Linked DNA regions of Homo sapiens: all the other regions are reported to be linked to region 3. Evidence: microRNA targets listed by miRTarBase, many of them from high-throughput screens and not tested one by one. Region 3 holds a microRNA gene; each other region holds the end of a gene's coding sequence.

Region 1 (5,073 bases), not on the chromosome of region 3:
TGGAGGGTTGGAGGGGAAGCCTGCGAGGACTGTCCCTACTTGTGAGGGCTGAAACACCAATTCCCAGAGGCAGGATGGAGGCAGGTGTGTGGGGACACAGGAGGTGGAGGGGCTCACTATATCTGTTCTTGGGCAGCTCACTTCCCTTCTCTTAGTCTCAGTTTCTTTCCTCTTCTTTTAGAGATAAGGTCTCACTATGTTGCCCATGCTGAAGTACAGTGGCTTTTCACAGATGCAATGATAGCACGCTACAGCCTTGACCTCCTAGGCTCAAGCAATCCTCCCGCCTCAGCCTCTCGAGTAGCTGGGACTACAGGCTGTTGCCACTGCATCCGGCTGCCTCAGTCTCTTTACTTGAGAAATGGGACAATAACTTCCATCTCCAGAGTAATTTGGAAACCAAAGAAGAACACACACAAAGCTGTTTCATTAAGTTCTCTGTAACATGGGGGACTCTGGCTACAACTTACATCATCTGAACACCTACTATGTGCCAGGCACTCACCCTGATCACCGTCACCGGGCATGCTGAGCACTGCCATTTCTCACCCAGGCAGAGATGCTTGGAGGTTATGTAACTGAACACGATTACACAGCTGTGAAGCTGGAGCTGGACCTGGAACTGAGGTCAAACTCCACCGCCTTTGCTCCCCACACACCTGCCTACACCCTGCCTCTGGGAATGGTGTTTCAACCCTCACACAGGGGGACAATCCTCCCAGGCTTCCTCTCCAACCCCACCCCGATGGTGGGTAGGGCAGAATTCCGCCCAACTCCCTAAGTTACAAAGGGCCTCAGTTTCCTCATCTGTCCAACAGGGACCACACTGCTGCGCCTCACAGGATGACGGCTACAGGGATCAACCGCCCCCCACACCAAAGCACCCTGGGCCTCCCTCGCACTCTCCTGTTCCCCACCTGCCACCTGGAGACGCCTCTTCCCCGCCCCTCACCCTTAGGCGTGGAGGCGAATGCGCAGGTCGCCCCCATCTCAGTTTCCCCGCCATTCCCGCGCTCACCAGGGGTCCGGCTGCCGTCGCTCAGCGGGTGCCATGGGTCACGGTCGGTGGCCACGAGTAGGCACTCGGGGTCGCGCAGGTGCGCGCACGCCTCCCTCAGCTTGGCGAAGGAGAAGTGCTCGTCGTAGCCCACAAGCACGGCGCGCACGCGCGGGGCCGCGCCGTCCCCCGCGCTCGGGTCCCCGGCCAGGCGCAGCCCCGCGGCGCGCAGCTCGGCGCGCAGCCCCTCGCCGCCCAGCACGAACACGGCGCCCGGCGCGTCCGGAGGCCCGGGCAGGCGCTGGCGCAGCAGGCGCGCGGCGCACAGCGCGGAGCTGAAGAGCTGCTCGGCGCGCAGCCCCCCGAAGCCGAGGCGCGCGAAGCGCAGGGCCAGCTCGGGCCGCGCGCGCCGGCTGTTGTTGCTCACAAACAGAGCCGCCTTGCCGGCCCGCGCCAGCCGCTCCAGCAGCTCCGGGGCGCCCGGCACGGCGCGCTCGCCGTTCCACAGCACCCCGTCACAGTCGAACAGGACCCCCTGCGCCCGGCCCAGCACGTCGCGCAGGGCCGCTCCGCGCAGCCTCTCGCAGCGCGCCATGCAGCCGGCCGGCCGCCGGCCTCCCGCGCCGCGCTCTCTCCGCGGGCACGGCGCGCTCTCCCTGGCACGTTCCACGCAGCCGCCAATTGGCGCGCTGGAAGGACCGGGGGGCGGGGCGACGGCGTGGCCTGCAGCCAATGGGGGCGAGAGTCTGGGAGAGGAGCGAAGCCGCGAGCTAACGGAACTTGGAGAGAGGGGCGGATTCGTGGCCAACACCGAGGGGAAGGGACCAATGAAGAGCTAGCTTGATCCTTCTCCCCGTCCCTGGTTCTGCTGGACCAGTCGCCGCCGAGTTTCAACGCCGACTACACTCTTACGCGGTGGGAGACTGACGCTCTTCTTAACCAATAAGAATCTACAAACAAAACGCGAAGCGAAAGGCCCCGTGCCCTCCAGCCAATCAGAAGCTTAGGCGAGCTGGTTGCTGGGAGAAAAACAGATGTTAAATGAACTGCCTTTGGGTCGAATCTCATTGCCCCCTGAATCGTGGACGCTCCAGTTCAGAGCGAAGTCCCAAGAAACGTGTGTGTACGATGGGGTACGAGGCACATGGTGTCTTCTTGGGTGCTGGAGCCCTCGGTCTAGACCAGTAGTTCTTCACACTGCGTTAGAGTCCCCTGGGAACTTATTTTCAGATATCATTTACATATAGTAAAATGCATAGATCTTAAATGTACAGTTCAATGTCTTGACAAATGCTTTTGAAATCACCGATGTGTAGCAGGACAGATCCTCATGTAAGTGTTTTGGGTGAAGACTGGGCATTTTTTGGTTTGTTGGTTAGTTGGTTTAATTCCAGGGATTCTACCGTGAGCTAGGATAGGGTAGGGAAGCACTGGGCTAGAGGCTGGTAGGCTGTCACTGCAGCACGCCCCGGGAGGGCAGGATCCAGAATGGTCGTGGCCAATTGCCCAGAATAGTAATGGGGTGACCCAGGTTGGCTGGGTCCCTGTCTTAGGGAGGAGGCCTTGTGATCTGGAAGCAACCACAGGTCTTGGGACCTTTGAGGAGCCACTGGTCTGCAGTGTGGGGATGAATGAATTGTGAGCTGTGGTGTCACAGTTTTGAAGTTGTCTGCCAACTTCAGATAAGGCTGTGACCCCCAGGAGCAACTGGAGCTCCAACGACTTGGGAAAAACTGTACCTTGTACCCAACCTTGGAAGCTCAACTAGCTCCTATTCCCCAAGTGCCCTAAGCCTTTTGCTCCTGGCCTTTGCATAGATAGTCTCCTTGGCCTGAATGTTCCTTTTTCCTTTAAAAATTTCACCTTCAGGGCCGGGCTCGGTGGCTCACGCCTGTAATCCCAGCACTTTGGGAGGCTGAGGTGGGCGGATCACGAGGTCAGGAGATCGAGACCATCCTGGCTACGGTGAAACCCCGTCTCTACTAAAAATACAAAAAAAAAAAAAAAAAAAAAGAAAAAAATTAGCTAGGCGTGGTGGCGGGTGCCTGTAGTCCCAGCTACTCGGGAGGCTGAGGCAGGAGAATTGCTTGAACCCAGGAGGCGGAGCTTGCAGCGACCTGAGATCGTGCCAATGCACTCCAGCCTGGGCAACAGAGCGAGACTCCATCTCAAAAAAAAATAAACAAAAAATAAAAAATAAATAAAATAAATAAAAATAAACAAAATTCACCTTCAGGTCAGCTCCTGAAAGACTTCCCTTAAATATCACCTTCTCCAGGAAGCCGTTCTTAACCACCCACCCCATACCATGAGTCTAGGTTATATGGCCACCCCTAACTTGGCTAATATGGGCTCCCAGTGCAATGACACTTGATTTTTTTTGTTTTTGAGACAGGGTCTTACACCGTCACCCAGGCTGGAGTGCAGTGGCATGATCACTGCTCACTGAAGCCTCCAACTCCTGGGCTCAAGCGATCCTCCTGCCTCAGCCTTCCTAGTTGCTGAGACTACAGGCACACGCCACTACACCCAGTTAATTAAAATTTTTTTTTTTGTAGAGACAGGGTCTCACTATGTTGTCCAGGCTGGTCTAGAACTCCTGGGCTCAAGTGATCCTCCTGCCTCAGGCTCCCAGTGCTGGGATTATAGGCATGAGACACCGTGCCTGGCCAGACACTTGATTCTAATGGTTGCTTCTGCCTGTCTGTTTGGGAACTCTTTGGGTGTAGGGTTAAGTCTTGGAGCTAGCTCAGGGCCTGGCACAGAGCAGATTTAGGGAAGGTTTGAGGACAGATCCATCCCTGCTCCTTGGGGAGGCTTCCCAGCCTCCTCCCGGAAGGAGAGTGAGGGGTCCAGGAAACAGTGGGAGCGGTAGGGGCTTCTGTGGGCCAAGGGTGGTGCTTTGGTTTTCAATGGAGAGCAATACCTCTGTGGAGGGAATTGTTATAAAGTTTCACAAATGAGGAAAAGGGATACCAAGAAGTTAAGTAAATTGCCCAGAATGTGAGGGACAAGCCAGGCTTTGGAGTCAGACCTAGGCTCTAATCCCAGGCCCCTGCCTGACTGCCGTGTGACCTTGGCAGGTCACTTCTGTCTGGGCCTCAGTCTCCTCACTGCTAAGAGGTAATGGTATTTCCTGCAGTAGGAGAAGATTAAGTGGAAATCATCCACAGAACAGCACAGCATGTAGTGCAGAGAAAGCTCTAAAAATGTCTGCTGTGATCTCACTTCAGACAGGAAGAAAGGAGGCAAAGAATATGTATTGTTTTCCCCTTTATAAAATTGGCTTCTTTATTTCAAGGACAGAAAATAAAACTATCATTTGGGCAGCTGCTCCAGTTTTGTCCAAAATAATTTATTTACCAGCCTTACAAAAAACATGTCGGCAAGAGAAGAATCAGTCCCGTAGGAGCAGGCAAACCTCTCCTTCCTTCCGGTGGCTCCCCTAGGACCTGCCGGAGAGTGGAGAGTCCGGTGGGGGGGTCCCCAAGCCCAGGGTGGACGAGGAAAAGGTCAGGAAATAGAGGATTGTCCTGAGCCCTCCTGGCCATGGGGGCCGACCCAGTGGGCACTGAGGCACTTGTGGGCAAAGGCTGGAGGCCCATGCCCCTTTGTGGGGGGCGAGAGCTGTCCTGGGAGGGCCAGGTGGGGAGGGAGGGGGTGCTGAGGGCTGCTTAGGGAGAAACCAGCCACTCAGTTGGTCTCTGAGGCAAGGCTCCTGGGGCGGGGCTGAGGGGGGATAGCTGGGGGAGTGGGGACCCCACTGATAGCCTCAGGGGCTCCTCCCTCTGCTGTGGCAGCCCCCAGGTCCACCTGTGCAGGGTTACTCAAAGAGACTGGGCTGGGGGAGGCTGGACCTGGGGAGGCCGGGCTGGGGGAGGCTGGTGAACGCCGGCTTTGGCGCCGGGCAGGCTGAGGGGGTGTGGGGGGTAACGGGGGTGGCACTGTGGGGGCTCGGAGGCTGCTGCCAACCAGACGTCGGGGCAGGGCTTGGGGGGTCCCAGGGCTGCCAGAGCCAGGGGGCAAGGGCGGGGCTGGAGGGGAGGAGCGGGAGCCGGAGACCTGGGGGGGCGGCA
Region 2 (5,073 bases), not on the chromosome of region 3:
CTAATAACAACTAGCTAAATATAACATATGACACTTACTAAATTTAGAGACACTGAGATTGTGTTTATTCTTTACATTAATACCCTTCTTTTGAAAATTAAAATTAACCCTTGTTTACTGAAAGCCCTCAAGTAACTTGTTACAGACTTTATGTTTTTATAAAATGAGCTTGTGCAATGTTCTTTATTTTTTTGTCTGTTTAGGGATGGATCTTTACATGTGACATGCACAGATCAAGAAACTGGAAAATGTGAAGCAATCTCTATTGAGATAGCATCTTAGTGTTTTAGAGAAATCAAGAATTTTTAAAAACAAGAATATCAACATTTGGTTTTGTGTATAAGTGGTGTTTGTATTAAAATACTTTTTCAATGAACTGTATAAACTATGTTTTATTAAACTACAATATATCAGTAAGTGTTGCAACCCTTTGTTTTTGACGTACAGTAACCTCTTATTACTGGGAAATATAAGGAAGTTTTTTTTTTTTTTTATCATGAAGCTGTTTAGAATTAAACTGAGTTGGTTAAAGAATTTTCTATAACATTTAATTTGTAAAAGTCTTCTATTGATTCTTGTTAGATAACCAAGAGAACAATTAAAAGTCATTGACATTAATTGAAAAAAATTTCAGGACCACATAGAAAGTAAGATGCCTTTTTTTGTTGGTTTTTGTTTTTAGAGACAGGATTTTGCACTGCCACCGAGGCTCAAGTGCAGTGGTGGGATCATATCTCACAGCAGCCTCGAACTGCTGGGCTCAAGCAGTCTTCCTGCCTTAGCCTCCCTTGTAGCCGGGACTACAGATGTGCACCATCACACCTGGCAATTTTTTTTTTTTTTTTTTTTTTTTTGGAGAGACGGGTCTTGCTATGTTGCCCAGGATGGTCCCAAACTGCTGGTCTCAAGCAGTCCTCCCGCCTTAGCCCCACAAAGTGCTGGGATTACAGGCATAAGCGACAGCCATTTTTTAAGTAAACTGATAAACTCAACAACTAGGAGAGGGGCTTTTACTTTTTACAGTTTTGTTTAGTTTATTTCTTCCAACAAACATGTTTTTCTTTTGAAATTAAAAGATCTCTTTAGGGCTGGGCACGGTGGCTTACACCTGTAATTCCAGCACTTTGGGAGGCAGAGATGGGAGGATCACTTGAGGCTAGGAGTTCCAGACCAGCCTGGCCAACGTGGTGAAACCCCATCTCTACTAAAAATACAAAAAATTAGTTGGGCGTGGTGGTGTGCGCCTGTAGTCTTAGCAACTCCTGAGACTGAATCCCTTGATCCCAGGAGGCAGAGGTTGCAGTGAGCCGAGATCACGCCACTGCACTGCAGCCTGGGTGACAGAGTGATACTCCATCTCAAAAAAAGAAAAAAAAAATCTCTTTAGTTTGAAGAGAAGGCTAGCCACATTCTGTTTACCAGAGAATATTCACTAGAGCCCTGAGATCCTCAGTGGGTTCCAGTGAAAACTTATTCATGTTGGCTGCTATGGAGTTAGTTGGTAGTACCCTTCTAAAAGTTTTTAAAGATCCAGAAACCAAACTTAAATTTTTTCATCATTATTTTGCATCAAATTATTGACAGAACCATGAAGAGAATTCAGATATGATTTTAAGTCCACAGAGTCTTTAAATACAGAAGCAGCTTTAAAGGTGTACTCTTTGTCCTAAGTTATTAGTTATTTCTTAGGATCTTTTTCCAAAGTCATAGAAAATTTGAAATAAAAGTGATTTTGGTATAAGCAATTCAGTGGCTTCAGAACACAGGAAAACACCAACTGAACTAGTTCTACTGCTAGGTCTACATGCTTTCAATTATGCTTTGAAAAACTTTTAGGATTTTATTTTGTGGTTATTGTTAGCTTTTAAAATAGATCTGGGGTGCCAAACTATGGCCAGTGAGTCAGATCTATCTCACCCCTGTTTTCATAGATAAAATTTTATTAGAACACAGTCACACTCTAATTGTATATGGGCTGGCTGTGGCGGTTTTCACATTAGAGTGGCAGAGATGAATAGTTGCACAAAGGCTGTGTGGCCCACAAAGCTTAAAATATTTACTGTCTGGCCTTCTACATAAAAAATTTGACACCTAAAGTACATTATTGAAACTTATAGAATAAAATAACTTCTTCTAAAGTTTTCTGCTATATTTATGTAATGCTTTACTTATTGGCTCCTTTCCCCACTAGATTATTAAGCATTGTGAGAGCAGATACTCTCAGTCTTAGTCACCATTTTGCCTCAGCCCCTACAACAGTACGTGAGCATAGTGGGTGTTCCTAAGTGCTTATCAAATAAATGAATTATGTGGAAGAAAAAATAATGTCATGTTTGTATGCTACAGGACAATGGCCAGTGAGTAGTACATCTGTTGTATATTTTATGGTTTGTTTAGAAACATAAGGAAGGAAAGGAATAGCACTGCTGACTTTATTGGTCAGCTTTGCATGTTTGTTTGGTTGTTTTCCCCTAGACTTATCAAATTTGAAATTGTCATCAATAAGTCCTCTACTGCCTAATGAAATTCTTCCACATTTTTTCGTACCCTCAGGTGATAAGTTTTTTCCTTGTGAATTTTTGAAAGATTTGCTGACAAAATTTTCTAGTGTTTTTTTATTTTTCAAGGTGAAAATAGCTTTAAATTTTTTGTTTGTAAGAATGATACATAGTCAATATAAAATTCAAATTCCAAAAGAAAAAAATATAAAACATTCTTTATTCTACCATCCAGAATAGTAACTATAAAGATTTTTGGTGAGTACCTTGATAATCTTTTCATGTACATCCTAGTTATCTTTGTTATATGTATGTCGTAGCAAAGATAATTGGGATGTACATGAGATACATGCAATTTATACTCATGAAATGTAAATATATTTCATGAAGTTTAAATATGTATATATTTAAATGTGGGGAAAGTAGTCAAGTAAGTGAAGTATTACATAAATATGGAAGAAAAGTTTTGAAGAAGTCATTTTATTGTGGAAGTTTCAATAATCTACCTCGGGTCAAGTTTTTTATATAAAAGGCCAGATAGTAAATATATACATATTTAAACTTAAACACTTTTACCACTAAAAGCTTATGTCAAATTATAGTTTTGCCTATTTACATCTGACATTGTCTGAAGAACAGAGCCAAATATAAAAATAGGAAGAAATACCTATGATGTGAAAGTCTTGGAACGTGTCTTAGTTTGGACTGCTATAATAAAGTACCATAGTCTGGGGGGTGGCTTGTAAACATCAGAAATGTATCATAGTTCTGGAGGCTGGAAGTCAGTTCGGGTGCTGGACCAGGCTGGAAGCGGGGCCGGGTTCTGATGAGGGCTCCCTTTTGGGTTGCCAGCTATCCTTATAACCTCACACGGAGGATAGAGGGCGAGAGAGCTCTGAAGGGTCCCTCTTGTAAGGGTGTCAATCCCATGCATGCAGCCTCCACCTTCATGATTTAATCACCTCCCAAAGGCCCCACCTCCCAATATAATCACTTTGGGGGCGAGGATTTCAACACTGGAATTTTTCAGAGATGAAAACGTTCAGTCCTTAACAGGAGGTCACAAAATATTCATCACAAACTGAAAGCTTTTATATGTATAAGAATTCTTAAAAGTATCCTAGCATAAAAGTTCTATGGGAAAAATCACAATATCTAAAATGATAATGAGTGACCATATAATACTGTTATTTGCTTTAATTCATTATCTCATTTTAAAATTTTGATCTCATCACAATTCCACGAGTAGTTGTACTATGTAGAGAGTAATATGGCCTTGGTTATTTCTGTTTTCCAGATAATAGATTCACAGCAGTTAAATAAAGTATCCAAGGTCTCACAGTGAATAAATGGTGGATTTTGAACTAACATTCAGATGCTTATTTTGTAAACTTAATTTTTCTTGACTGCTTACTATTTTAAGCACATTACATGGATTATTTCATTTAAATTCACATTCTTAATCTAGTGTTCATTCTATGATTCTTTGCCTCTCAGAAGAGAACGTTTATTTCAGTAGAAGAGGAGACACTCCAGAAATCATGTGGTCTTTGTGAAAAAAATACTGGGAAAGGGTCATGATTCTCTACTTTTCCCTTGAGGACCCTGGTGTGTGTCTCTCAGTGGCTTTTTATTTCTCTCTCCATTTATAGCCAGGATTTACCAACACCCTCAAACATTTTAGTCCCAGGAACCCTTTATAGTCTTAAAAAATAACATGTTGAGAACCCATAGAGCTTTTGTTTGTTACATATACATAAAATGTAGTTATATAACTATAGTTACCATATGGAAATTAAAACCAATTTTAAAAATTATTTCTAAGTAATAAAGTTAATTTTTTATGAGAAATAATTTTTCTAAGACAAAAAATTAGTGGCAAGGGTGGTATCTGGGGTTTTATTTTTTGTTTTTTGTCTTGAGACAGGGTCTTGCTCTGTTGCCCAGGCTGCAATGTAGTGGTTTGATCATAGCTCACTACACCCTCAAACTCCTGGGCTCAAGCGATCCTCCCACCTCAGCTTCCTGAGTAGCTGGGACCCCAGGCATGTGCCACCACGCCCAGCTAATTTTTTAGTAGGGTTGCCCTGGCTGGTCTCTAGCAATTCCTCAGCCTCCCAAAGTGCCAAGATTATACGTGCGAGCCACTTTGCCTAGCCAAAAGCAGTATTTTGTATTTTTTCAAATCTCTTTAATGTCTGGCTTAATAGGAGATAGCTATGTTCTGGTACCTGCGTCTTCGTTCAATGTGTTGCAATATTCAAATTGTGTAACCTCTAGAAAATTCCACTATGTACTCATGAGCGAAGGAAGGCAGAGAACATGTTGGTCTGAAAATAGTTTTGCGCTCATGAACCCTGTGAAGAGTCTTCGGGTCCCAATTACCATACTTTGAGAATTGCTGCTCTAGATAGTAAACACGGTGATGAATGTTGAACAGACAGGGCCTCATCTATGCGCTGGAATGGATGGGATTCAAGACACGAAACGAAACACTGGATTTACAAAATAGTGCGATGCATTCATTATGAATCAAGACCAAAGAACAAAAACCCGACAAGATAATTGCAAATTT
Region 3 (5,000 bases):
CTCTCTTTCTCTCTTTCACTTTTCTTTTCTTGTGAGCCCAGTAGGAATGATAAGTGAGATATAAATATTAAAAGTTGGTGCTAATTGTTTGCTTGTTCCTCCTTTAGGAAACAGTCTGTTTTAATGTGTGAACTTCTAGGTCTTTTCTATACTTCTTGAAAAAAGTTCACCTAGGCTTCACACTTGTCACTAGCAGTTGGATTAGTGCTTAGATGAAAGCTTGTGCCAAAGTGAGGCATAGATGAAGTAATTTTATGACCGTTTGACTCTTTCTCCCTTATAAGTTTTGATCCACAAAAGAATTAATTTCTATTTCAAATGTGTGGTTGAACTTTTGGATGTTTTTTTCATTTCCGTAGTGCAAATTCATCTTTTTCAGGATTAGCTCTCATGGGAAAAACCAAGAGCTGTTGGGCATTTTTAGTTTATTTATCAATCATGACATTTGAGTGCTGGATGACAATGAAGTTTTGCCAAGGATTACTCTGCAGAGCCCTGTGCTTTATTTCCATTGTTATCTTTGGAATGGATTACATTCACATTATTTGAGGAATAATTAATTGGAGCCCCAATTCAGACCAGTTGGAAGACTAACAAATATTCTTTTGTTTTGGTTACAGAAGCTGCACACATACATGTAAGAGAAGCAAAAATGTCAGATGATATCAGGAAAAGGTTTGAATTTCCAAATTCTCTTATCCAATCACAGGTAATTTTGTTTGTTTATTTTTGCTCATGGTAACAAATAAACCTGTTCTGTGGATTTTTAACTGAACTTTATATATTTAATATTAAATATTTTATTCTACATGTAGAGATTTATATTTTGTGAAACAACTTTAAATATACATTTAATTTGAAAATATATATTTGACATGGAAAGCAAATATTTGAAATTGATCAATCTCAGCTTCTGTTTATATATCATACTTTTCTTCCTAGAGATAATAAAACCTTGATTAACTAGTAGGCCCCTGAATATGTTTGTTTGGTTTTTTTTGGCCTATGATTATTGGGAACAGAGGTAAACAGTTATATGTCTGAAGAGTATGAGGGATTAATATTTAAGAAGACATATCCTACCCCTTATATAGATTTTTATAATAATGATATTTAATAAGTAAAATATCCTGGATTAGAAAATTTGATATATCTACTAAGATAGAAGATTGTGATAACTTTAAAGAGCTTTTCAATAATTAAATAGTTAAAACAAAGATGGCTTTCTGGGTAGCCTTTAGCTAACTAGAAACATTCTGGTTAATCAAGGTATCATAATAGCTTATTGTCTTTTCTTGTGAGAGTAAAGCTAACAGACCAGCAGAAGCCATCTTGAAGACTTAACAACATACAGCACCTTGGATACTTTCAACAATTAACTTCGGAGATGTCTGCTGTGGGAATTGACTTAGCTGGGTAGTGGGGAACCCTTCCATGAGGAGTAGAACACTCCTTATGCAAGATTCCCTTCTACCTGGCTGGGTTGGAGTCATATCCTGCAGGTCCTTACCATGAAGAAGAAGATGAAGGCTTGGAGGATACTATTCACAGTTTTATTTTTCTGTGCCTGGAGTCTCTTTGTTAACATAGATAATCAAGAAATGCCCATACGTGTTACTGTTAAATTAGGTGAAAAAAATATATATATATATTTATATTGTTTAGTGTAGGATGGCTATTTGAATTCTGTTATAGAACACTTAAGTAGCAATGTAGGCTGATTTATCCTTGGGTTTTGTATTTTAAAAAATCAGTTTAGGCTAGTATCTCTGATTTGTTAGAAGATGAAGTGAAAAGTATATTAGATAAATTCAACCTGGTGGGGAATGGGGAATTAAGCTTCTCTTCTTTTATTTCTTTTTCTAGATATGAACTATAGCTTTTTCTTTGTCCCTATTGTGTTTCATATTAGTTTTATTAGGTTCTTGTGATTGTGTCCTGTCCTTTGCAAATATTTCTTATTGTTCTTCTGTAACCACTGCTCGATGTTAGCACCATATTTCTTTGATTCACACACGTTTTTTTTCAGATTTTAACATCTTTGAAATTGGATTGCCTCTAGTAATTGATGGCAGCAGTTGAGATACAGTTGGTATTGCCTGCACATTTGTGAACTTGGGCATGATTTTCTACACGAGTCTAAAAGAACTCTTGTGTGACTATAAAACCAAAATTCCGACTTATAAGAAGCACTGTATATCATAGACTAATTGGCAGCCTTTTTTCTTTCTTAGTGGCACACAGTATAATGGTGCAACTTGCAATTCCTGGTCAGTTCCATTCAATGAAATATGGTATGTTTTGTAAAACAGGAGCTCAACCTATCCATGGGTGCTCAGTTCTTATTACTATTCCTTTTACTAGGAGATAAGAGACAGTAAGTTGGACTAAACTTAATATTCATGTAAATGAGTGACTTATATCACAAAACTAGACCACAAGCACCACGGTCTTAAATCAGTTCCAATGTGTGAAATACAAAGAGAAAAATGAGGAAGGAGTGGGTGCTGTGTTTTTATTTGAGCTGTTCTGGAGACTTTGCAGGACTGACAGTTATTCACAGCTATACCGTAATTTGGTCCCAAGTGCAGGATGGACAGTTGTAGCAATAGTGAAGTAGTTTCCAACCCGTACACAGAATGGCAATGATTGTTGCTAGCCTATTGGCTCTAAGACATATTCTTCATATTCGTTAACAGTGTGATGAAGCATGGTGGATTTCGTTTCAGTGCAAAGATGATTTTAAAAACTATGGGCTTTCTCATTCATGTTTTAATGGAGTAAGCAATCTCAAGTTATCTTCTGATACTGACAGCAATTTGAACCAAAAATCTGGCAGTTTTCTTAACCTCTATGCACTATAGTTGCTTATTGGTAACCTGGGATAGATATGCCTACCTTGAGGGCTATTCTGAAGATTAGAAATTGTGCATGTGGAGTGCCTAATTCAATGCCTTCTACATAGCACACACTTAGTTAATGGGAATTTTACTTAATCCTAATTGACTGCCTGGCATACTCATATCAACTAGTATTGATATTTGGAAAGAACTTCTAAGGGACTGTGTTCATTAATTTTATTTCTTTTTAAGGCTGTGGGTCATCTTATTGCTGCAGTCCTAAAGGAAAATGGTTTTTCAGAAAAGATTCACCAATCTACAAATCAGGTCTGTGTTTAACTTTATGCTTTAATTCTCTTCAGATAAGATTGCTACTAGCTGGATCACATATGCACCTGTCTTGTTTCCCTGATAGTTCAGATCACAGTAGAAATGCTTTTGAACTGTGAGAACTTCATTGCCTTTTTTGTTTATTTGTTTGCCTTTTTAATATATAGCAATAAAAAAGTTTTAAATTTATTAAAACCCTCTAGGAATGAGACATGGAGGGAAGGGCTGGAGAGGAGTATTCTTATGACTATTAATGAAAAATAATATGGGTGGAATGAGAGAAAGCATGCTTTAGAGAAGATTGATAGAGTTACCTCTGAGGGAATTATTTTGGTAATGAAGAGAATGAACAGAGTGGCTCTGTTTGGATGTAGATTTCTCATGCTTCAGCTCAGCCCCAGCTGTGAGTTCTTAGTTGGAAAGGTCATACATTGACAGTCAAAGCTGAAAAATTCCATCTTACACAAATAGCAGGTGAATGCTCAGAGTTGAAGCAATGCCAGCTTACTGAGATACACTTGGGGTTTGGTTGATCAGTGTTGTGTGTTTTGACCTGCTAGTTGGGAAACTCTTCTTTTAAGAGAGGTGTTCTCAGGTGTCCTCTATAGGGAACATAAGTGATGGAAATAAGATTCTTTTTTTTCACAGCAGAAATAAATTGATTTCCTTTGTCTCACATTCTTTTTGATTAGCTGCTCCAAGTTACATTTCTTTATTGCTTCTGCAGACATGTTGAAGTAAGTGTAGGACACACTTCACTAATTGGCATTTTTCTGGTGTTTGTATGTAGTCATATAAATTAGGTTTTCTGAAAACTCTGATCCTAATCCTGCCTATAATCACATTGTGTACTTTGAGAAGATCTAGTGATTTTACTTAAACTGCCAGGATTTATTGAATGTCAAATCCCTGTAACTGTTTCCTCTTCTACTAAAAATGAATGCTTACACAGTCTTACCTGAGGCAGCAGTTTATTTATTTGTTTGTTTTGTTTTTCCGGTGTAATAATAGAGTGATGACATTTAGAACCTTTTGATATTGTCAGTACAGCTGAACACAATGTCCTTATGAATAAAAGGAGAAGTGGAATATAAATATTTCCTTCCTGTAGTGATTGTTAACTGTATTGTTATTTTAATAGTGGGATGCTAAGATAGAAAAGATTCTTAGCCAGCTACAGAGGGAAAGTGGGTACAAAATGATGTTGATTTTCTTTTCTTTTTTTTTTGAGACAGAGTCTGGCTCTGTCGCCCAGCCTGGAGTGCAGTGGTGTGATCTCAGCTCACTGCAACTTCTGCCTCCTGGGTTCAAGCAGTTCTCATATCTCAGCCTCCCGAGTAGCTGGGACTACAGGTGTGTGCCACCACACCCAGCCAGTTTTTTGTATTTTTAGTAGAGACTGGGTTTCACCATGTTGGCCAGGCTGGTCTCGAACTTCTGACCTCAGTTGATCCACCCGCCTTGGCCTCCCAAAGTGTTGGGATTACAGGCATGAGCCACAGTGCCTGGCCTTGATTTTCATTCTTTTATTAATAGTTATTCTTTGGGAGCCGGGATATTAATTTTTCCCAAATTATATATTTCCCTAATAAGTTGCATCAGGAAAAAGGAAAAATTGCTTCATTATTTGTTCTTTTTTTTTTATAATACAACTGTGTGTAAGTCTAAATGGACTTTATCTGCAATATAGTCATATAGGTTTATTGTTAGTAGTGAACCATTTTGGTGGTCCTGGATTCCTGAGAAAGTTATAAAAGCTAGAACCCCTGCTTTGATAGGGTATTCTAAAATGAAAACTTATATTTACTTATATGTCCTTCTCATGCTCTT

Evidence for each region. Region 3 holds the annotated microRNA hsa-miR-491-5p (AGUGGGGAACCCUUCCAUGAGG, at 1,419-1,440, shown strand). A microRNA usually pairs through its seed, bases 2 to 8, with sites in the 3' UTR of a target mRNA and lowers its output. Matches are read on the target gene's strand: a 7mer-m8 pairs with bases 2 to 8, a 7mer-A1 pairs with bases 2 to 7 and ends in A, and an 8mer does both.
Region 1: the mRNA of SH3BP1 is a reported target of hsa-miR-491-5p. Seed matches in the 3' UTR shown: 7mer-m8 at 4,643-4,649 and 7mer-A1 at 4,610-4,616.
Region 2: miRTarBase lists HSPA14 as a target of hsa-miR-491-5p. The part of its 3' UTR that is shown has no 7-base or 8-base seed match.

The regions. Positions count from the first base shown.
Region 1 is chr22:37,655,302-37,660,374 of GRCh38, reverse strand. It overlaps SH3BP1 (SH3 domain binding protein 1), which reads right to left. Exons shown (of 18, transcript NM_018957.6): 18 at 4,258-5,073. The coding sequence ends at 4,691. It overlaps PDXP (pyridoxal phosphatase), which reads right to left and starts at 1,652. Exons shown (of 2, transcript NM_020315.5): 1 at 1,019-1,652. The coding sequence starts at 1,592. PDXP-DT (PDXP divergent transcript) reads left to right here and starts at 1,998. Exons shown (of 6, transcript NR_109952.1): 1 at 1,998-2,120. RefSeq lists enhancers at 1-449, 1,276-1,777, 1,966-2,015, 2,026-2,095 and silencers at 1,156-1,265, 1,466-1,775.
Region 2 is chr10:14,871,325-14,876,397 of GRCh38, forward strand. It overlaps HSPA14 (heat shock protein family A (Hsp70) member 14), which reads left to right. Exons shown (of 14, transcript NM_016299.4): 14 at 204-417. The coding sequence ends at 282. It overlaps SUV39H2-DT (SUV39H2 divergent transcript), which reads right to left. Exons shown (of 1, transcript NR_186426.1): 1 at 4,999-5,073. Among named protein-coding and RNA genes, the nearest start is that of SUV39H2-DT, 4.8 kb to the right of the region's middle.
Region 3 is chr9:20,714,702-20,719,701 of GRCh38, forward strand. It overlaps MIR491 (microRNA 491), which reads left to right and starts at 1,404; the gene lies at 1,404-1,487. It overlaps FOCAD (focadhesin), which reads left to right. Exons shown (of 44, transcript NM_001375567.1): 2 at 621-709; 3 at 3,093-3,167. The coding sequence starts at 653.